Linked DNA regions of Homo sapiens. The protein of the gene in region 3 interacts with the protein of the main gene of each other region in a pairwise test. Each region holds a gene or a part of one and is shown on either strand. Other genes may lie near its edges. The genes, in order: LMO3, SLC38A2, DCDC2, HORMAD1, KRTAP9-3, DYNC2LI1 and MYG1.

Region 1 (3,500 bases), on a different chromosome or scaffold from region 3:
CAAAAACATTTTGTGAAGACAAGTAGGGTAGTGTTACTTGTGCCAAATGTTGGTATCCCCTGTCTTGGTTGCAAAGCATTTTGAATAAAACAGCTGACCTTCTATGCTTGATGGTAGAAACACAACTGTGGGAAATATAACTTAGCTGCTACTGGGATTTTTTTTTTTTTCGATTTTTCATCTTTGAGCTTTGTGATAAATAAAAATAATAGCCTTACAAATTTAATAGAATGGCCGTTAATTAGGATGGCTTAATTAGAATGGCTTCTCTTAATATTTATTATCTAGGTGTTTTCAGTAACACCATCCAGAATTTCACTGAGTAAATCAAAACTTCCCCTTCCCCCTAGATATGTGGTTAACAGGCACTTGGATCTGTTGTTCACTGTAATTAATGGGATTCACTCCTTGTGGAACCTTGCTAGAAGAGGATAACTAGTTCTGATCAAAGAAACTTCATTTGTTAGAAGTTCTAGAGAGTGAGATTTAGCAGAGCTATCAAGGGTTATGATTAATCTACACTAGGCCCTTAGCTCCTTCAAAGGAAAGGAACAGAAAGCAGGCTATAGGGATACCACCTGCTCTTCTTACAAATCCAGCTGTTAGTCTGCAGCTCCGGTGACTACAGCTATGCTTATGATGCAGAAAGAAAGAACAGCTACTCTGCTTTATTTCCTGCCATTCCCTACACAACTCTACCAGACGAGTTATTTTCTAATGAAAGTTCAACATCCTAACAATATTTTGTGCAACTCATGTATTATTTGTAGTTAGAAAAGTTATTCCGCTCTGCGGATGCCTTGATGTCTCTTACCAGTGGGATTTTTTTTTTAAAAGGTTGTGAAAGTTGTGATGGGGGTGAAGCCTTCATCATAAGATATCAGAGGAAACTGGAGGAGGTTTAGCTGTTTTGGAGAAGGAAAATGTACAAAAGTGCAGATTATAGCTTGACATTTCTTATCCTATAATGCATGCACATTTGGTGTTTTGTATCCTTCTACATGCAAGTTTAAAACTTTATGCCTAGGAGAGCAAACATAATGCAGCAGAAGGGTCTCTGGACTGTAAGAAGGCCATTTGGCTGGAGTCTATAGCGTAACTGTCTTTCAGCTTTGAGCAAGTCTCTGAACCTCTCTTGGGCCTCGGTAACATAATTTGTAAAATGAGGGAATTTGGAATTGATGATGTCTGCAGTACTTTATAGTGCTTAAAATGAGTTATTTGATAAATATGAGGCATTGGATAGTTGGTCCAGCTTCTTGCTAAAGCTGGGTGTTTTAATACCTAGGAAATAAGAAGACACTCAAGGTGAATGTCCATTCATTCAAAAGATTTCAATCAAACTGTAAAGCCCATGGAATCCAGCTGGATTCCTTATTTATGATGGATTTATACCTTTAAAATATATAAATGTTTCTATGTTTAGCATAGTATACATATAACATGTATATATTTACTTATATATGTTTGTATAATTGTATATATATTTAGATCTTGCCTTCTATTGTTTTTTCTTTCCTTTATAAAACAAATAATTGCATGTTTATGGTAATAAATGGTATAATCATATACTTTAGGTTTACATAAAAGCATATAGTATATAGTTAAGTAATCTGCCATTAATATAGGTGCTGACTGATGCTTGTGAGTATAAATGTTATATTTGAACACAATGAATACTTTGAAATATCAAGGACATAGAAGAAGTATTTGGATGCAAGCAAGAAATATAGGATTGGTGAGCTTTTTGGGTAGCTGTTCTGTGTACTTAACTATAAACACCTCTACTGCTGAATAAGGTTAGTGTAACCCCATACCAGGTGCCCTCTCCTTCCACCATCAAGCACATATTAAGTGAAATTTTTAAACAGTTAAGCAAAACTCATTTTTTTACTTGTAGGGACTGTGCATAGATTAATTTGTTAAATAGCTTTCTTTTCAGATTGTTATTTACTCACATTTTCTTTCTAAAGGAACTGCTCTATGGGGAGAATGAAGATACTATAAAATTATTTAATGTTATTGAACTTCATATTTATAATGTCAATTTACCATGGTCAACATGAATTTATTATTATTGTCACTTGGCATGTGTAACTTTTTGAATGATTTAATAAGCACTTGATAAAGTTTGAGACTTTTTGTTTCCAAAATTGGGTTTGATTTCAGTATAGCCCTAAACAAGAAAAGCTAACACTCCTAGAATAAGGAAATATTAAATATTTAACTTGTTTGAGGTCTTTTTATTCTGTCTGGTAGTCTCAGCTCTCTTTTTTGCTTTTGTCTTCCTTTAGGTATACAAATGCTCTCAGTCCAGCCAGACACCAAGCCGAAAGGTTGTGCTGGCTGCAACCGAAAGATCAAGGACCGGTATCTTCTAAAGGCACTGGACAAATACTGGCATGAAGACTGCCTGAAGTGTGCCTGCTGTGACTGTCGCTTGGGAGAGGTGGGCTCCACCCTGTACACTAAAGCTAATCTTATCCTTTGTCGCAGAGACTATCTGAGGTAGGAATTATCCTTGCACACCAGTGATGACTGGATGCCTTTTAAAGTACTTTTGTAAGTGTATTTTTTGTTTGCTTGTTTCATTTCCTTACTGCCAGCTTATATTCCTGAAAGAAGTTACCTGTCAGCCTTCAAAGCGTTGCCCTGTGTGTGTTACTCAAATTAATGCTTAAGGAATAGCCAACAAACCACAATATTTAAAGTATTTCAATTTGGCTTGCCTGCACACTCAGGCAGTTGGTTATGGCGCTGCCTATGTTGAAACTGCCAGTTAATGTCAAGGATGTATTTGGTCGAAATCAGCATTCAGGTTGATTTACTTATTTTTTCTTTTTTTTCTTTTTTTTTTTTTTTTTTTTTTTTGGAGCTTAAGGGGGAATGGGGGTTGAGCATAACACAAAGAAATTGATCAGCCATTTGGCAAAATATCTTAACTATTTTTAAAAAGTTCAACTTGAAAAAAATGGACTGTGTAAAAGAGTTTAATTGTTGCCTCTAAGTTGGACCTGAATTTAGTCTTCTAAAGTTATTCAGCTGTCTTCTCTGTTTCAGGTGTGTCAGAGGAAGTCAGGTGCAAATCCTTGGTTAATATCTATTAGTGCATTTATTGTAGAGTTTTGAAAACTTTCCCCAAGTGTAGATACATCTTCCTCTCGCCCCACCTCATGACATTCTAAACGGGAATCTCAAAAATACAACTAAGCAATTGAACCGCCTCAGACTTGCCAGTAGTTTTATGGATAATAACAAAGTAAAGACCTCCATCATTATAGGAAAATGACAGCCACTCTCCAACCTGTAAACATCTGAATGCTTTCAGGACAAGGCAGGTGTTCTTGGTTATGGAGCTATGAAGCCTACTAAAGCTTGTTTTCCAGCATTAAGTACTCAACACAGAATTTCTGCTGAAGGAAAATTATTTTGCTTTTCAGGCAACTTTGTGACTTACTTCAGCTGCAAATTACTTATATTAATAAAGTAGGATCTATCAA
Region 2 (3,500 bases), on a different chromosome or scaffold from region 3:
GCACTGAAGTCTAAACACAAAATTCACTTATGTTTCCTATACACCTTCTTAAACCCATAGCCTAAAGGTGATTTTATACAGTATTTTAATTAATTTTGCACACCTGTCACGAGATCAGGTGTGGATTTTCCACTTGTAGTGTCATGTTGGCACTCAAAAAGTTTTGGATTTCAGATTAGGGATGTCCAGCCTGTATTTTGCATTGAACAGATTAAGTCTTAAGAATTCCAAACTTACAAAAATAAGACGGATTAATTTTTAATGTAATTCAAAGCTTCAGTCCTCACTTAGGATATATATTAAAAACACCTATAACTTCTTTAAGTATGAACATAAAGACAGAAAGCAAGTTCTAGAAAACCTGTTTTAGAAATTAAGATATCCAAAATTGTAGGGCTAGCTACTATCTTTCGGCCTTTCCTTCTCCAAAGTTCGAATCAGTTTACGGGGATGGGGGGCCTTCTTGGTCAGTTTCAAAAGGAACATTTATGGATAATTAACTAATCATTTTGTATACAACTTTGATAAAAATGTATCTAACCACTTTTGACTATAATTGTTTCTTATGAGTAACCTTACTTAGCACCTACCCAGTTTTATCTTCAATGTTCGTTAATGCCTGGATCACCAAAGGCAACTCATATTTCACTATGAAGAGGTAGCTTGACATAGCTGGAGGAAAACAAAATTATACCATTACAAGTGCAAAACGCGGCACGTGACACTAAAACGCATGTGTCACCATTCTGTGCTCCACAATGAGCATAAAGTCTACCCAAATAATCTTTTGAAAAATTCTTACCTCCAATGTTCTGCATTGTAATTGATCCAGATGCTGCAAGCTTTCCAACTAATCCAAATGCCTTATATCCCAATTGTTCATATAATAAAGACCCTACAATTTGAAGACAGAAGCATGAAGCCAAGGATTTTAAAAGAGAAATAAAATGATAGGTATACATTGTTTTAGAAAAATCAAGAATGCTATCATACCTCCTTCATTGGCAGTCTTCAAAAGGAGATGAACAGAATACAGGGAAAATATTGACACAAATGTCAAGAGAATTCTGGTGAGAGAAGGAAAAGGCATAGGGTTATAAATAAGCATGGCTATATTTAAAGACAACTCTTTCTGGATGTTTAAATAACATTATGTGTGCAACTTGTCCTATTTGTGTCAAAATGCCCTGAAGAACTGGCATTTCCTCTCCTACTAACTGGAATGGCAACACTGTCTCTTGGCTGGCAGTAAAAACTTGCATCATTTCTCAGGTGATAGTTCTACAGCATTGGTTAGGAACAAGGATGTCTACCCACTGAGCCAAACATAGCATGAGACACTGGAAAGCTCAACTTCCCAGTGATGGAGTTTGAAACTTGTATTTTGATTCTGGCACCACAATAATGAGCTGTATGCTTGCCACCTTTCTGCATTTCAGTAGTTCCCCTTATCTGTAAAATATTAGTAATATCCGCCACTAAACCCAGCCCACAAGGTTCTTGGGAAATTCAACTGAGACACGTTCAGGAAAGGTTTTAAGACCACATGGACCGTATACACAAAAACAGGAATGACAGGCCAGGTGCAGTGGCTCATGCCTGTAATCCCAGCACTCTAGGAGGCTGGGGCAGGATGACTGCTTGAGGCCAGGAGTTCGAGATCAGCTTGGACAACATAACATAGGGAAGCCACATCTCTACCGAAGGAAAAACAAAAAGCCAGCTGTGGTGGTGTACACCTATAGTCTCAGCTACTCAGGCTGAGGTGGGGGTATCACTTGAGCCCAGCAGTTTGCCACTGCACTCAGCCTGGAGGACAAAATGAAATACTGTCTTTTTAAAAAAAAAAGAAAGAAAAGGAAAAGAATGGTAAGGGGGAAATGACACTAACATGATACTAACATTTTAAGAGGCACTACAAGCTTTACTAACAACTGGGCACAAATCAGAGAACTAACCATTGTGATGACATACTACATTGCACCCCATGGCAAGGAATACAGGCCCACTATTGTCACAGTTAAACAATGTCTGTGCTAGAACAAGTAGGCTATCAGCTTGACTGTCTCTAAGCCTTTCCTCCCTTGACCCTTTCACTTGGATTGAGCAACAGAAAAAAAATAAATAAATAAGGTAACATAGAGTGACTAAAGGGACCCTAATGTCACCTAATTTTCCTTTAGGGTAAGGGTTCTCCCTCATTCCAGCTTTACTTTCCTTCCACCTAGGAGAGCCCAGAGATACAGACTAATTTTTTAAAGAAATTAAATAACAAAACAGGGAAACTCATAGAAAACCTTGCAAAGGAGAAGAGTTACATGTTTTTTAATTCCGTATGAACAAACTGCACGCAGTACCATGTAAGGTGCTGACAAAGAAACTGATGTCTATTAGTTAAACAGAGGAAGTGGCTTTACACTACCATTCTAAATGCCAGAAGTTTTACAGGACCTAGTCTGAAGTGACACTATCAACCTCACTTCTAACTGGAGAAAATATGTTGGTTTAATTAAAAACAAACCAAATTAAGTCCTTCCATGTCTTATACTGAAATGACAAGGGATGAATAGACTTTATAACCTTTGAGGTCACTTTCAACCTTCAGATTGATTCTACTTAAACAGGTTAGCTACAGGGTTGCTGAAGTGCACCGTGGCAGCCATGTGGTTTTTGGCCCATTTTCCTCTATACCTCTAAATATAAAGTAAGTACTGATGAATAAAATCACACTTTAGCAATCTTATTTAGCCATTAAGCAAAATGGTAAATCAATGACATAAGCACCTATTAAAGTATAATTCCAAGAGTACAAGGGTTACATCAGAATTTGACCTTCACTTATGAAACAGAGGTGCCATTTAGTATCATTTCAATTCTTACTTTAACTACACTGGCTGCACTCTAAAACTGCCTCCAGTTTTTATACCAAGTGCTAACAAGGATTTCAAATATTCGACAGTGATGCCATTCAGGTTCTCCACTAAGAACTCCTGAGATTCTAGGATTCTACGTAAATCGCTGGTCCTTCACCTTAGTAAGAGTTCTCTCAAAAAGCCTCATCCTAATTGAAGCAAGCCAGAGTGAATCCTAGCATCTAGTACTCAAAGCCAGGCTTAACCTCAGTGTGGAATTTCACAAAGCAGAGATTTGCAAAGGTCTGCTTTTCTTTTCATGAACATTCTATCGTGCTGGAGAAAATAACTTGAGTAGAAGGCACCAATCAGCTAAGTAAAACACATCTGTCACAAAGGGACAATTCCATGCTATATACATATGGTTTCCTTATCTGTACAATGAAGGTATTAAGTTACACAATCCTCCACAGAAATTGCCTTAGCCAGGGGTCCACGGGTACTTAAACTTAAGGGCTATGACACAAACATCACTGAAAAATACATGCTTAAGATTGCATGTATTTTTGTTTTGTGCTTTTTCCCTGGAAATAAGATCCACATTTTTCTATCATATTCTCCAAGAGTCAGTGACGCAAAAATGGCTAA
Region 3 (3,500 bases):
ATTTGAAACTTAGCACTTATAAGTTTATGTAAAGAATGGAGAAACTGTCAGAACAAAAGAAAGCCCAAACGATATTGAGGACAATTCGTGGGCTTTCATTTAGACCCTAAATGTTGGGAAAGACAGCAACATCTTTTTCAAATGGAACTGATCAAATCGCTGCTTGAATTGCTTTCACTTAGATTTTTCTAATATTTTTGAAACGATAACTAAACATCAGGTAGCTATTAAACCCTTATTTATTTCAAATGTGAGACCATACATTCACAACCTTTATTTTACAGCAGAGGATTCTAGAGAGTATTTCCCCCAAAACTTTCCCTGTGCATTGTTGGAAGTTGACTCTGCAGCATTAATCTTGTGGATCTGAAACCACTTTCCTGCACATGACAGAATATTTTGGTATTATTTCAAAACTCAGCCCCTGCAGGTCCACAAAAGACCCATTTTATTGCTAAGACGGAGTGTTTGCACTGTTTTAAAAATATGACTACTTTTATATAGGGGCATTGTATGACAATTTCCAGAGATATGAATTAACTAAAGTATTTTATCCAAAAAGGCAAACAGCAACAATAAAAACATTTCAATAGCCAAAATTAATTCTAACATAAGCTTTTTTTGGGACAAGTTGGCAATTGTAGTAGTTGGGGTAAAGGATTGATCTATCATTATAAATTATATGTTAGATTTATACTTTTTAATATTAAAATGTTTATTTAGCACATTTTATGTATGAAGCACAGTTTAGGGACCATTTAAAACTGGAACCACATCACAGTGATATTACACGTGAAGTTGACAAAGGTATACAGTTTTCAGGTTGTGCTTATGTAACAGCTAAAGAATGATCACTGTTAGTATCTAGAGCAAATAGTAATGGAATAATAGGGGTCTCCAGAGGTTAACTAGTCCACCCATCTGTTTCTTAGCTGAACCAATTACCAAAGTCATCCCACATGAGTGAGTGTTTTTGTATCATTAAGGTGCTCTCATAGAGACAATAATTTCTCAGCCTTTCCCAGTTGTTACCCTAATGCACGCTATCAGTACTTCCTTTGACCTAAAGCCTGTATTTAATGGAACAGTTAAGCAGCTTTGCACATAAGCCACTCTTTTAAAAAATCAAATCTGTAAGAATATAGTGTATATAGTAAGCAGCTAACTATTAAGAGGGAAAAATGTTCTCTAATAGATGTATGTATTTCTAAGACTTTCCTTCTCTTGAAGTTTAGGGTAGACATATGTCAGCTCTGGTTGGTGACACTGCAAACAGTTTTTACTATTGTAATTGCTTTTCATTAGTAGCTATTTGTTTTTGCTTTAAGGTTGAGAATTTCCTATGAGTTGCTTTATTTTTTTATGATTTTTAAAAATAAATTACTGACTTAAAGTCTATAAAAGCAACTCTTATTGTTTGTTTGTTTTTTCCTCAGTTACTTGGACATAGGAGAAATCAAGAAAAGACCAATGGAAGTTGTTAATACAGAGGTAATGCAAATATTATTTTGAAAATTCAAATAAATAACGGTGCCATTTGTTTCTTATGGTGTGTCTTAGAGATTTGGACGGCATTCTACTTTGATGAGTTCTCTAATGTAAAGAAATGGAACATTATATGTTTTAAGGCAAAGATAATTCTTTCTTTGAATCATTGTCAGAAATGAAAAGACTGAGTAGATGTTCTAAGATGTGCAGGATATGTCAAGATTAGACAAAACATATTTTTCTCTTTTCTAGCTACATGTTCTCTGATTGAAATCCATGGGAAGGTTCCCTGTCAAGTGAGAAGATTCTGAGCGTTGTTAAATAAATCTTTACCAAAGCTACATCCTCATCCTAATGTGCCTCTGATAACTCAGTGTTTGATGTAGCCAGGGTCACCCTAACTGCCCCTGAGGCTTTCAAAGGAGATGAGTAGATGTCACGTTGGACACTTTGTGATGTCAGGAAAACACCTGTGTTTTAGCTTCTATCGAAGTACGAGTTAAGCATAGTTCGTGAAAGCTTATGTGAAGGTTGGAAAAGGAGCTTGTGAAATATTCACAATACCGCATTCCACGTAGCTTCTGAAACCCTGGTGGAGTTTTAGGTATTCTGTAGGATGTATTCTTTAGTTTGTGAATGAAAAAATAGATTAAAAACAAAGTTGGGGCCACAGCCTGAGACAGGGAAAATTGTAGTTAGATCCAGAATAGGCCTCTGTTCACCAGCCCAGACAGCCACTCTTCCCATTCAGACCCCAAATAAACAAGTGCTTCCAATGGGTAAGTGCTGCCAATGAAGAAATGGCCAACAGGAAAAGTAGTTTTTCTCACTTGTAGTCCAGAGCCCCAGAGGGACTCTCCTCAACACTCACCATTTCCTCTCACATCATGTTTGTGCCTAATAGGACCAAATAGGCCCCTCTAGAAAAAATATTGCGTAAGAAAAAAATTCTAATTGTACAGTATTTGAAGAATATGAGGTTAAATTCATTATTCAAATAATCTGTAGAAAGAGGTACCCTTCCTAGACATCATTTAACATAATTAATATTTTGGCTTGTATTTTCAGTGCATCAAATTGATTAGTCATGAAAGTGATAGGCTTTGTAGCTTAAAGTAGACAAAGGTATACAATTTTCAGGTTGTGCTTATGATATAGCTAAAGAATGACCACCAGTTGATATCTGTCTCAAGTAGAGTAGTAATAAAGGGCAGTGTTGTGAATTTGTTCTGGATGTGATTCTGATGAAAGGATACACACCTGTTTAAAGTATACTACCTTGCATGAAATTGGTGAAGAAACCTGGACTTCCGCAATAGAATTTGAGATGTGTGAATTCCCAAAAAATGTGAGCACAGTATATTTACTCTGGATTCCAGTGTCTTTGCTGAAGACATTATCCCTAGTAAAAGACAACAGGTGTGCAATAGATTTATCGAATATACTTTTTTCTTAAAAATTTTTTTTTGAGACAGAGTCTCCTTCTGTCACCCAGGCTGGAGTGCGGTGGCTCGATCTCTGCTCACTGCAACCTCCACCTCCTGGGTTCAAGCGATTCTCCTGCCTCAGCCTCCTGAGTAGCTGGGATTACAGGCACGTGCCACCACACCTGGCTAATTTTTTTGTTTTTCGTAGAGACGGGGTTTCAGCATGTTGGTCAGGCTGGTCTTGAACTCCTGACCTCATGATCCGCCCGCCTTGGCCTCCCAAAGTGCTGGGATTACTGGCATGAGCCACCAAGCCCGGCCTTAAAATAGTATTTTTAATAACAGAAGCATTCACAGAAACTCCAGTTCATTTAATTTGCTTATTGTTCTTCCACTCTGGGGACAGTAACCATTGTTTCTCTTTATTTTGCACTTACACATGAGCCAACGTACAAGATCCTTATTTATGGATGCACACCTTACGTGTGAAAAACCTACCCCTTGTCTCCAAATGAAAGACTGCATCTCTTTCATCCTGCTTCCTACTGGTGACTCCCTCCCACTTACTCCTTTCCTCTTGCTGCC
Region 4 (3,168 bases), on a different chromosome or scaffold from region 3:
TTGTGAGTAACTTCCTTTAATTAGCATGTTTTCAAGGTTCATCTAAGTTGTAGCATGTATTGGCACTTCATTTTTTTTATGGCTGATATTCAATTGTATGAATATACCACATTTTTTAATCCATTCATCTGTTGATGTATATTTAGGTTTTTCCCATCTTTCGGCTATTGTGAATAATGCTGTATATATAGTTATTAAAATGAATATTGGAAAATGACTAATGATTAGGTGTCATACAACTATTCTCTAAAAGGATATACTTCTTTTCTGATGCTTGAAATGAGCTTTCCAATGATAACTTCCTTAGTATATATAATAATGAATATTTTCATTTCTTGCCCTTTTCTAACCACAATTCAGTAATAATTCTCAAAATCAGGAGTACACTTGCTCAGAGTTCATATCCAAAAACATGTGCAATTTCAGAAATAAATTTATGTCCCTAAATCATCTTAATGTTACATTACAAGGAGATCTTGCTTAATAATTTTTAAAATGCTGGTCTCTATCCCTATATCCTAGTAAAGGTTATTCATCCTACATATAAACTGGCTAGGATGAACATTTTGCTTCTAGAAGTAGTAAATCTTGACATTCCTTTATCTCTTGCTTTCATGAGATACTCATTTGAATGCTGCCTTCTGCCAGTTCTAACTTCCCATTGAGAATAGGGGTGGGGGAAGACACTTAAAAATGGCACTATAATGAGTAGTGTTCCAATAAATGTTTAATAACCAGCTCTAGGAGAGAAACAAACCTTGAGGCATTTGCTGATTTCTGTGCTGTGAATACTACCAACATGTCCAATTTAAGCTACCAACATGATATCTCTGAGTGGGGAGTTGGGAATAAATGTTCTAGCACACCACTAACAGAGTGAGCTATTTATTTCCTAAACTTTAGATATTTTATATATTTTACAGAATGCTTTTTCTTCACCCCAATGAACCTTTGAGAGTAACTTAAAGGTCTAAAATCAAATATGAATTTTGATTTAGTATAATTCATACCAAAAGCTAAAATAAAGCAGTGATTTTTTTCCCTTAAGAATATGAGATTCATTTTATACAAGATATATACAAAAGATTATTTTGTAATGTCTTATTAACAAGATACTCAATTTATAAGACTGAGCATGGTGCTCACTTCAGCAGCACATATGCTAAAATTAGAACGATATAGAGAAGATTAGCATGTCCCTTGCACAAGGATGACATGCAAATTCATGAAGCATTCCATATTTTTCAGAGTGAACAGAGAACCTACAGAATGGGAGAAAATTTCTGCAATCTATCCATCTGACAAAGGTCTAATATCCAGAATCTATAAGAAACTTAAACAAATTTACAAGAAAAAATAAACAACCCCATTAAAAAGTGGGTAAAGGACATGAACAGACACTTCTCAAAAGAAGACATTCATGTGGCCAACAAACATATGAAAAACACTCAACATCACTGATCATTAGAGAAATGCAAATCAAAACCACAATGAGATACCATCTCATGCCAGTCAGAATGGTGATTATTAAAAGTTAAGAAACAACAGATGCTGACGAGGCTATGGAGAAATAGGAACACTTTTACACTGTTGGTTGGAATGTAAATTAGTTCAACCATTGTGGAAGACAGTGTGGTGATTCTTCAAAGATCTAGAACCAGAAATACCATTTGTCCCAGTAATCCCATTACTAGGTATATACCCAGAGGAATATAAATCATTCTATTACAAAGATACATGCACCTGTATGTTCACTGCACCACTATTCACAATAGCAAAGACAGAATCAACCCACATGCCCATCAGTGATAGACTGGATAAAGAAAATAAGCAGCCATAAAAAGAAATGAAATCATGTCCTTTGCAGGGACATGGATGGAGCTGGAAGCCATTATCCTCAGCAAACTAACACAGGAACAGAAAACCAAACACCACATGTTCTCACTTATAAGTGGTAGATAAACAATGAGAACACATGGACACAAAGAGGGGAACAATACACACTGGGGCCTGTCAGGGGGTTGGAGGGAGGGAGAGCATTAGGATAAATAGCTAATGCATGTGGGGCTTAATACCTAGGTAATAGATTGATAGGTGCAGCAAATCACTATGGCACACGTTTACCTATGTAACAAACCTGCACGTCCTGCACATGTATCTTGGAACTTAAATTAAATGAAATTTAAAAAGAAAAAAAGATCAAGCATGGGAACATTCTGGCATTCTAGGAAATTTCTCTGGGAGTCTGGATGATAGTATCACTTCTTCCCAAAACCTTTCCCGGATCCCTCTCTTTAATATACCTTCAGTAAAATTAACCATTCCTTTCTTTGTGCCTATGTAGCCTATTCAGACTTCTATAATGGCTCTGTATCATTGCTTGTTTATTTCCAGTTACTAAACTTCAGCTAAGACCATGAAGTATGTGTTATTCAGGTTATATCCTAAGCACCTAGTAAAGTACCTGACACATAATAGGTACTTAGTAAATACTGGTTTAATAAACGAAATATTAAAATAAACTCACATATGGGGGAGAATTACAAGGTTACAATGGAAAACAAACCTAAAGAGATATTTACCATTTTATTCTGAAAGACTTTTCCACTTCTTGTTTTGCTTTCAGACATATCAAGTTCAGATGTTTTATTGACTAACTGCTCAACCTAAAAAAGAAAATAATTACAAAAAATATAACTTAGTATAATAAAACCTTTTCATAACACAATAAATGGGGTCCAAAAATTTAACCACATAAAATTTAGGGTCTTGTCAAGTTAAAACCAATAATTTTGAGTTGGTTCATACTGTTCAAAAAGCACAAAAGTAAAGATAGTGAAACTGACACTTTACATAATTGGCCAACCACTGAACTGAGAAAGTACCAAATGATCACCAGGCACCACCCTTCCAGAAGACAAGAAATTTAGTCTACTTATTTGAGAAATGGGCTGGGCAGAGGAAGACAGACAATCAATCATCAATCATATTTTTTCCAAGTTCATATTACCTAAATCTCTTATTTCAGGATTTTACTGTATTTGAAAAGCAGAATAAAACATGTATGCTCCAAGGCAACACAAATGTATTATATATTCCACTTATAAATACAAAGCAGGGTGGAATAAATAACTGCATAAGATTCTATCTAGCTCTGAAATTCTCAGA
Region 5 (2,948 bases), on a different chromosome or scaffold from region 3:
ATTTCTGAACTGTGAAAAGATAAATTTAAGCCACTTGGTTTACAGTAATTTATTATGGCAGTGCTGGTAAGTTAATACACTTACTAAGTATCCTGAGCTATAGATATATTCTGCTACACTATATGGCTTAAAGATAATTACCCCTCACCAAATAGTAACTCCTTTCTCTGTCTGCTGCTCTGCTGACGGGAAGAGTCCAAAATGACTAGGCGATAACGATTCCTTTTGATTATAACAAAGAAACAGAGAAGCAAATACTATAATTTTTATTCACATGGAAATTTTAAAAAGCCAAAGTCATCTACTGGATTATAACTTGATAGAGTGATTAGCTGTTTGGAAATGAGTAAGCGGATATAATTGGGAGAGAATGGCATTAATTTCTATTTCCTAACCTGGTAATGGGGACATAGATGTATTTACAATGTAATACTATATCAGGTTGGAAATTAATAATTTGCATTCTTCTCAAGTGAATGATATACCTAGACAATGTTTTCAACATGTTAGAACTCCACGATGAATCAGGTGTCATCTCAACTCATCTAATCCCTTCATTGAAAAGAAATAGAAGAAATTACTTCTACTTACTTCTTCTTCTAGTTACTGCTAGTAACTAGGTTTAGGGCTAGAGCCACAGCACATGCTGGTTGGCCTGAATTTCAACGCTTACTTCTAGTTACTGCTAGTAACTAGGTTTAGGGCTAGAGCCAGAGCACATGCTGGTTGGCCTGAATCTCAAGAAGTTACGTGATAGAAAGTCCTCCATTCTCATCCCGGAAATCCCCACACTCCCAGACAAGTCAGAATGAATGGTCGTCCTAGGGCATACATTGCTTGATGCTGTCTAAATCTCAGCAGATTTCTCTGCATCCACCTGTTCTCGATCTGCTCTGTCGCATGGAACACACTGTGCAGTCACCGTCTTCCCAAGTGACATTCAAAGAACTGAAAGACACAGATGATGTGGGTGGCACAAAGAGATGCCTGTTAGTCTTGAGTCAGAATTTGGTGGGTGAATAGTCTTGGGCCCAGGCATGGATTCATTTTGTCACTGTAAATATATCAGCATCATGCTTCTCCCCACAGACACTTCCAAGTCTATATACAGCCAAACATGAGGCTGGCCAGAGAGAACTTCCTGAGCCCCCCGGATCAACAGGAACTGTCACATGACCAGATGATGGTCAGAGCAGGAATGATGCTGATGATGAGACGGGCTTCCTTTTATCTGAAACAAACTTTCTATGAGTAACTCACAATTAAGAAACAGATTAAACCCTTAGTTTAAAAGGTTCATAAGATTTCAGTAACAACTTCCCCTTTGACAATCCCAAATGGACTGTGGAAAACAATGTAAACAGCAACAAGGAAAAGTCCTGCTGATTGGTGGAAACTTTGGAGGCCAGGTGTATAAAAGGTCCAGATTGCAAGGGGTCATCAGATTTTGGGAAACTCACCTCTTAACAGAAGCCCACCCTCCATCCCTGACACCATGACCCACTGTTGCTCCCCTTGCTGTCAGCCTACCTGCTGCAGGACCACCTGCTGGCAGCCCACCACTGTGACCACCTGCAGCAGCACACCCTGCTGTCAGCCCTCCTGCTGTGTTTCCAGCTGCTGCCAGCCTTGCTGCCACCCAACTTGCTGTCAAAACACCTGCTGTAGGACCACCTGCTGCCAGCCCATCTGTGTGACCAGCTGCTGCCAGCCTTCCTGCTGTAGCACACCCTGCTGCCAGCCCACATGCTGTGGGTCCAGCTGTGGTCAGAGCAGCTCCTGTGCACCTGTGTACTGCAGAAGAACCTGCTACCACCCCACAAGTGTTTGTCTGCCTGGTTGCCTAAACCAGAGCTGTGGCTCCAACTGCTGCCAGCCCTGCTGCCGCCCAGCCTGCTGTGAGACCACCTGCTGCAGGACCACTTGTTTCCAGCCCACCTGTGTGTACAGCTGCTGCCAGCCTTCTTGCTGCTAATCAACTCCCAAGAGAACTACCATCCTCACACAACAACCTTCAGCTCAACTGACTTGTCTTTTGAGGGACTAATTTACTTTGCTGCTGACAGCCACCATGCTCTCACCCAAATTTTTATGAATTCTCTACATGTTTAAAATCTTGGGAATCTGCTTGAGGGAGGGCAGAATACTTCATCCTCATTCCCTCTTTCCTTACACCTTGTGGATCATGTGCCAGCTTCGTCTGTTCTTAATTTGGAGTCATGATCTCAGCTTTGTCTCAAAAATCAAGAGCTTCATTCTTTGCTTCTAAGGAATTTAGGTTTCTGCAACTGATCAATCATCTTTGCAATTATATTTTCATTTTAAATATCCTTCTCATGGTTCTTGTATCCTTCTTTCTTCTTTTCACGATAACTTTGGGTTATGTCTCTGGTAGCAGAGATTCTTACCTATATGTTTCTGAATAAACTCTGAACCATCTTCATCTCATATAGTGTTTTGTTTTATTTGAAAGCATTCCTGATATGGGATTTACACACATATCACATACCATAGGTATTATCCAATTTGATTCTCAAAACAGATGGTCGTGTATTATTAACTCCATTTTTTCAGCTGAGAACAATTTAATGTGTGATGTTATGTAGCTAGTAAAGGGCAGACTCTGGTCAAAGGTGAGGTCCTCTCTTTCTGCCCAAGGACACTTACGTTTAACTCCCAATATAGTAGAAAAGACACTGGAAGTCAGCACTAGCAAGACATGTACTTGAGTTTATTTAACAATGAGAGGAATAATCTGACATATTTGCAGATAACACTTTTGTTCACACACAAAAAAATCCCAAAGTAGTTCCCCACACCTCAGTGAGCAAAGGCTGCATGATATGCATTTAATGGCTGCCCTGAATGCAGAGATCTTTTTGTCTGAGCCTCTGACCAGCCATTCATTCAATTCATCTGCATCAAAAAATGCTTGAGAATTTATTGTG
Region 6 (3,500 bases), on a different chromosome or scaffold from region 3:
ATCTACCAATCATACTGCTAAATCTTAATCTGATGGCCTGCTTCTACAGTATACGTTAGGAAATATATAAAATAAATGATAAAATATCCAGTTTGAGGACCAACACTGTGCTTCAAAAATGTACCCCTGAGCAACTAAAGCTTACAATGAATGTTCAAATAATTGTAGATTAGGTAGAACAAAAATAATTTAAATATCAGAGTAGCATAGCCAAAAAGAAGGTAAATACTATTGTAGGTTGGGTAATTATGGTAACATTTCTCCCTCAAATAGGGAAATCCAGTATTAGTCTCATATAATTTTTGGCTTATTGTTAGTTTTATATTTAAAGGCGCTCTTAAAGGTTATACTAAGGATTTGCTAAGAATTAAATATTTTGTTTGGGTCTCAAAATCGTTCCCCTTCCTTATGTCTTTTAGAGCTAACTTGCCCTATACAACTAGAATAAGCATAAATATAGTTTAAAGGTTAACATAACACTTACCTGTCAAGACACCTTAGAATAATAGTAGTCTTTCCCTGGAAATTAAAAAAGAAGGAACACTGCGTTAATGTCACTCATATGTAAAAATTGTATTATTGTTCGTAATTGTGGCCCAAAATAGATTTTTAATCAATTGAATGATAAATTACCTGGAAACTAAAAACTAGAAACTTTCGGAATTGTTCTAAAGTTTGATAAGTGGAAAAAGTTAACTGTCAACTTTCCATCACAGTGTAACTACACTGCTATTATTATAATTATAAAGTCCCACAGATGACAAATACTAGCAAATCATACCTCACTTAAGTGGTCAACTTGGCAGCTGTCTTAAATTTTTTCTCTACTCATCAATGTTAATTACTGGTTAAGCCGATGCTTAGTGTCTTTTAAAATGTTTTAATTCCAATTGTTGAAGTGGAAATAAAGAAAAAGGTAACATACAAATAAAGGACACATTGTAAATATGTTCAAAGTAAGCAATTCAGATACTGCATTAGAGTAATTTGTTTTAAGTCCAGAGGATGTACTTATTCCAAGTTTCTGTTTATTTTTATTTTATTTTATTTTATTTTTGAGACAGAGTCTCACTCTGTTGCCAAGGCTGGAGTGCAGTGGCATGATCTTGGCTCACTGCAACCTCTGCCTCCTGGGCTCAAGTGATTCTCGTGCCTCACCCTCTCAAGTAGCTGGGATTACAGGTGCACACCACCATGCCTGGGTAATTTTTGTATTTTTAGTAGAAACAAGGTTTTGCCATGTTGGCTAGGCTGGTCTTGAACTCCTGGCCTCATCTAATCTGCCCACCTCAGCCTCTCAAAGTGCTGGGATTACAGGTGTGAGCCACCATGCCCAACCCCAAGTTTCTTTTTAGGAGTAAGGAAATACAAGTTCTGGCCTAATTCCTACCACTAGTCAGGCAACTTAACTTCACAGCTTAGCCAGGGATTAGCTCAGTGGTTTATATCATTTTTAAAAAATAGTAAAATCCTTTTTTTTTTTTTTTTTTTAAAGAAAAGACCCCTTGCAAGGAAACAGATAAAAGAGAAACAGCAGGACAAGCTCCACTGGAGGAAACCTTCAGGCTCTAAAGAAAATAATTTGGAAAACTCTGGATTGCCAAAAACACAGAACACTTATTATATGTGTTTTTGTTTTTACTAAAAAAACCTATAGTTTTTGACAAAAAAGATAATTACTCCAGATTATATCTGGAATACGATCAAATTGAGTAAATTTTTTGTAATGAGATATATTAAAAAATAACTGGAATTGTACAATATAAAAATGTATATTATTGAAGGATGTTTATTGGCCAGTGTTACATCAAACTGAAAAACTAAAAACAACCTACATGTCCCCTACTGGCTAAATTAATTATGGTAAACCATATAATAGAATAATATACAGCTATTATGAATGACAATGTAGAAATATACTTACTGACATAGTAAAACATTCATAATAGATCAGCATGTCTCTGTTTTCAATTAAAAAATACTTTTCCTGCTTCCTTGAAGTACACACACACACACACACACACACATAGACAGAAACAAACACACAAATGTAGGGGGACATCACTATGTTAATAATGATTATTTCTAGCTGAAGGATTTGAAGGTAATTAAAGTTTTTAAGAAAATCAGGATTTTCTGCCAGGCATGGTGGCTCACGCCTGTAATCCCAGCACTTTGGGAGGCCGAGGCGGGTGGATCACGAGGTCAGGATATCAAGACCATCCTGGCTAACATGGCGAAACCCCAACTCTACTAAAAATACAAAAAAATTACCAGGCGTGGTCGTGGGCACCTGCAGTCCCAGCAACTTGGGAGGCTGAGGCAGGAGAATGGTGTGAACCCAGGAGGCAGAGGCTGCAGTGAGCCGAGATCACACCACTGCACTCGAACCTAGGCGACAGAGCGAGACTCTGTCTCAAAAAAAAAAAAAGAAAAAGAAAATCAGGATTTTCTAATTTTCCTACAATGAACTTGTATCATATGTAGTATGCTGTAAAAGTTCTAAATTAATAAGGGCTACATTACCCAAAAAGTAATGTACTCTGCAAGAAAGTAGAATAAGAATTGGAAGGAATTTTAAATAATATCTAGCCAATTTCCTCAAATTTTCATGGTACACTAGTATTCATTGATTTAAATCACTCCCCCTCGCCTTTTTTGTTTTTTTTTTTGAGACAGAGTCTCCCTCTGTTGCATAGGCTGGAGTGCAGTGGCACCATCTTGGCTCATGAAACCTCTGCCTCTGGGTTCAAGTGATTCTTAGGCCTCAGCCTCCGGAGTAGCTGGGATTACCAGTATGCACCACCACGTGCAGGTAACTTTTTGTATTTTTTAGTTGAGATGGGGTTTCACTATGTTGGTCAGGCTGGTCTTGAACTCCTGGCCTCAAGTGATCTTCCCACCTCAGCCTTCCAAAGTGCTGGGATTACAGTCTTGAGCCACCACGCCTGGCCTTAAATCACTTTTATTATTATTTCATATAAATGTATAGCACTATATGGTAACAATTCCAAATTAACATAAACTAATCTGGGAACTGAAATCAAGTTTTAGATTATCATTAAAATTACAATCCAAAATTTAAAAATTCATTAGTACACTCTGGTCCCCTGAGCATGTGGCTGTAGTCTTGTGGGTTTCCTAATTCAAGAAACATTGACCTAGTACAAGTTCATTTAGAGACCATCAAAATGAATCCCATCTTCCCTCCCATTGCCTCAATCGCCCCAGATGTCCAGCCCTCTCCTCTGACCCATTATCCCTGGAACTCTGAATTTCCTAACTCTGTAAACATCCCTTAATCTGGCCCAATAATCCCCTTCTGTCTTCCCTTCCTCTAAAATCCTTCCACTCTATGACTTCAGCTCCATGACTGGCAAACTCCCCAATATCTCAGCCTTTTCAGAATATTCTCTCCACATGTTGGCCTTAACTAAAATATGACTTACCCTGAACCCCTTCCTCTGCAGCCTTGTTAAACGAAGCTATTTATTCTCACT
Region 7 (2,491 bases), on a different chromosome or scaffold from region 3:
TCTCTGCTTGGAATGCTTTTTCTCTTTCACCCCTTGTCTATCTGGTGGACACCCACTAATTCATCTTTCAGAACTGACCTGAAGGCTCTCCTCTGAACCCTTTCCTCATCCCTTCCTTCCTTTCCCTTGTCTCGTCTAGTGAGAGTACTCAGGGGGTTGTGTTTGTCGGCCTCCGGCAGATGAATCTGAAAGCAAGGACAGTGTCTTGGTTTTTTATCCTTAATGTCTAATAAAACATAAAATGTGGCAGATAGGAAGCATTGAGTTAACCATTGAATGAATGCATGGAGACTCTAGCCAAGGTCCCTCACCTCAGCCCCACCTCCCTATGCTCCTCAGGTCTTTCACAGAGACCATGAGCTCCCTGTCCCCTGGGAAGCCGTGGCAGACCAAGCTGAGCAGTGCGGGACTCATCTATCTGCACTTCGGGCACAAGCTGCTGGCCCAGTTGCTGGGCACTAGTGAAGAGGACAGCATGGTGGGCACCCTCTATGACAAGGTGGGGACCTGAGGACAGAGATGCCCCCCACATGCATTTCCAGCAGGCCGCCTGGGAGCAGTGCTCACACAGCACTCAGCACTGGGCCTCGGGTCAGGGTTCCTGGCCTATAGCAGGCCCAACACTCATCCTCTCCCTCAGTCAGGCTCATCTCACAAGGGAATGGTGATACCTCCCCTGTCTACATCCTGGGGTGGTTGTGAGAAGTGGATGCTGTAATATATGGGGAAGGGCTTTGAAAACCATAAAGCAGCATGGCCCCGTCTTTTTATTGACACACACAAACAGCAATTGCTCAGCACCTTTGGGTAAACAGAGGGGAGGCTGCTTATGTGTGGAAGCAGATGGCTCAGAGGTTCTGGCTGCCCTGAAGGTTGAGGGGAGTGTATGTTAGGCACCACTGTAGTTCACTAGTGGCACATAAATTGGGAAGCTCAGCTGAGAAGAGTTTTATTATGAAACTGTCTTTGGATTCCACCAGTGTCCCCTGCAAGCAGCTTCCTGCTCTTAGGGAAAGAATATGGCTAGTGGCCCTGGCATGCAAGTCAGGTCGCACAGTACTGAGGACACTTACTTGTTTACAAGTCAAAGCCCAGGTTCAGTCAGCTGTATTTCTTGCAGGTAGGCTGTTGAATTCAGTTCTCAGTTTTTTTGTTGTTTTTTGTTTTGAGATGGAGTCTTGCTCTGTCGCCCAGGCTGGAGTGCAGTGGCGCAATCTTGGCTCACTGCAAGCTCCGCCTCCCGGGTTCACGCCATTCTCCTGCCTCAGCCTCCCGAGTAGCTGGGACTACAGGCGCCCATCACCATGCCCGGCTAATTTTTTGTATTTTTAGTAGAGGTGGGGTTTCACCGTGTTAGCCAGGATGGTCTTGATCTCCTGACCTCGTGATCTGCCCACCTCAGCCTCCCAAAGTGCTGGGATTACAGGTCTGAGCCACTGCACCCGGCCCATCAGTTCTCAGTTTTAGCTTGCCCATTTTCTGCCCTCTGTAACTATAGAGTTTTTGGAATATCAAGATTTTAGACTGCCTGGGTCAGTTTTCCCTTCCACTGCTGAAGGGTTTCTAAACAACTGACTAAATTTTTGTTGTTGTTTTTTTTTGTTTTTTTGAGACGGGGTCTTGCTCTGTCATCCAGGCTGGAGTGCAGTGGCACAATCTCAGCTCACTGCTACCTCCGCCTCCTGGGTTCAAGCGATTCTCCTGCCTCAGCCTCCCAAGTAGGTGAGATTACAGGCGCCTGCCACCACGCCTGGCTAATTTTTTATTTTTAGTAGAAACGGGGTTTCACCGTGTTAGCCAGGCTGGTCTCAAACTCCTGACCTCAAGTAACGCACCCACCTTGGCCTCCCAAAGTGCTGGGATTACAGGCGTGAGCCACTAATCCCAGCAACAATTGACTAAATTTAACCCGTATTTTTTTTTGAGAGACTGTTGCCCAGGTTGGAGTCCAGTGGTGCCATCATGGCTTGCTGCTGCTTTGAACTCCTGGGCTCAAGCAGTCTTCCCACCTCAGCCCCCCAAGTAGCTGAGACTACAGGTGCATGCCACCATGCCTGGCTAATTATATATCTTAATTTTTTTGTAGAGAGGGTCTTGCTATGCTGCCCAGGCTGGACTCAAAAACTCCTGGGCTCAAGTGATCCTCCCACCTCAGCCTAAACCCATGTTTTTTTTTTTTTTTTTTTTTTTTTGAGACGGAGTCTCGCTCTGTCGCCCAGGCTGGAGTGCAGTGGCGGGATCTCGGCTCACTGCAAGCTGCGCCTCCCAGGTTCACGCCATTGTCCTGCCTCAGCCTCCCAAGTAGCTGGGACTACAGGCGCCCGCCACTACGCCCGGCTAATTTTTTGTATTTTTAGTAGAGACGGGGTTTCACCGTTTTAGCCGGGATGGTCTCGATCTCCTGACCTCGTGATCCGCCCGCCTCGGCCTCCCAAAGTGCTGGGATTACAGGCGTGAGCCACCGCGCCCGGCCTAAACCCATGTTTTAACT

Evidence for each region.
Region 1: the proteins of DCDC2 (region 3) and LMO3 interact in binary tests that used the Homo sapiens proteins (3 or more experiments, as listed by UniProt).
Region 2: the proteins of DCDC2 (region 3) and SLC38A2 interact in binary tests that used the Homo sapiens proteins (3 or more experiments, as listed by UniProt).
Region 4: the proteins of DCDC2 (region 3) and HORMAD1 interact in binary tests that used the Homo sapiens proteins (3 or more experiments, as listed by UniProt).
Region 5: the proteins of DCDC2 (region 3) and KRTAP9-3 interact in binary tests that used the Homo sapiens proteins (3 or more experiments, as listed by UniProt).
Region 6: the proteins of DCDC2 (region 3) and DYNC2LI1 interact in binary tests that used the Homo sapiens proteins (3 or more experiments, as listed by UniProt).
Region 7: the proteins of DCDC2 (region 3) and MYG1 interact in binary tests that used the Homo sapiens proteins (3 or more experiments, as listed by UniProt).

Annotation. Positions count from the first base shown.
Region 1 is NC_000012.12:16,599,663-16,603,162, reverse strand, and holds part of LMO3 (LIM domain only protein 3), read left to right. Parts: intron 1-2,294; coding exon of another isoform or gene 2,295-2,302; coding exon 2,303-2,508; intron 2,509-3,500.
Region 2 is NC_000012.12:46,366,274-46,369,773, forward strand, and holds part of SLC38A2 (sodium-coupled neutral amino acid symporter 2), read right to left. Parts: intron 1,068-3,500; coding exon 994-1,067; intron 896-993; coding exon 803-895; intron 673-802; coding exon 591-672; intron 1-590. UniProt on the Homo sapiens protein: Symporter that cotransports neutral amino acids and sodium ions from the extracellular to the intracellular side of the cell membrane.
Region 3 is NC_000006.12:24,351,560-24,355,059, reverse strand, and holds part of DCDC2 (doublecortin domain-containing protein 2), read left to right. Parts: intron 1-1,436; coding exon 1,437-1,491; intron 1,492-3,500. UniProt on the Homo sapiens protein: Protein that plays a role in the inhibition of canonical Wnt signaling pathway. May be involved in neuronal migration during development of the cerebral neocortex. Involved in the control of ciliogenesis and ciliary length.
Region 4 is NC_000001.11:150,700,728-150,703,895, forward strand, and holds part of HORMAD1 (HORMA domain-containing protein 1), read right to left. Parts: intron 2,667-3,168; coding exon 2,583-2,666; intron 1-2,582. UniProt on the Homo sapiens protein: Plays a key role in meiotic progression.
Region 5 is NC_000017.11:41,231,007-41,233,954, forward strand, and holds KRTAP9-3 (keratin-associated protein 9-3), read left to right. Parts: upstream 1-1,442; 5' UTR 1,443-1,495; coding exon 1,496-1,975; 3' UTR 1,976-2,448; downstream 2,449-2,948. UniProt on the Homo sapiens protein: In the hair cortex, hair keratin intermediate filaments are embedded in an interfilamentous matrix, consisting of hair keratin-associated proteins (KRTAP), which are essential for the formation of a rigid and resistant hair shaft through their extensive disulfide bond cross-linking with abundant cysteine residues of hair keratins.
Region 6 is NC_000002.12:43,780,539-43,784,038, reverse strand, and holds part of DYNC2LI1 (cytoplasmic dynein 2 light intermediate chain 1), read right to left. Parts: intron 520-3,500; coding exon 485-519; intron 1-484. UniProt on the Homo sapiens protein: Acts as one of several non-catalytic accessory components of the cytoplasmic dynein 2 complex (dynein-2 complex), a motor protein complex that drives the movement of cargos along microtubules within cilia and flagella in concert with the intraflagellar transport (IFT) system, facilitating the assembly of these organelles.
Region 7 is NC_000012.12:53,302,695-53,305,185, forward strand, and holds part of MYG1 (MYG1 exonuclease precursor), read left to right. Parts: intron 1-339; coding exon 340-499; intron 500-2,491. UniProt on the Homo sapiens protein: 3'-5' RNA exonuclease which cleaves in situ on specific transcripts in both nucleus and mitochondrion. Involved in regulating spatially segregated organellar RNA processing, acts as a coordinator of nucleo-mitochondrial crosstalk.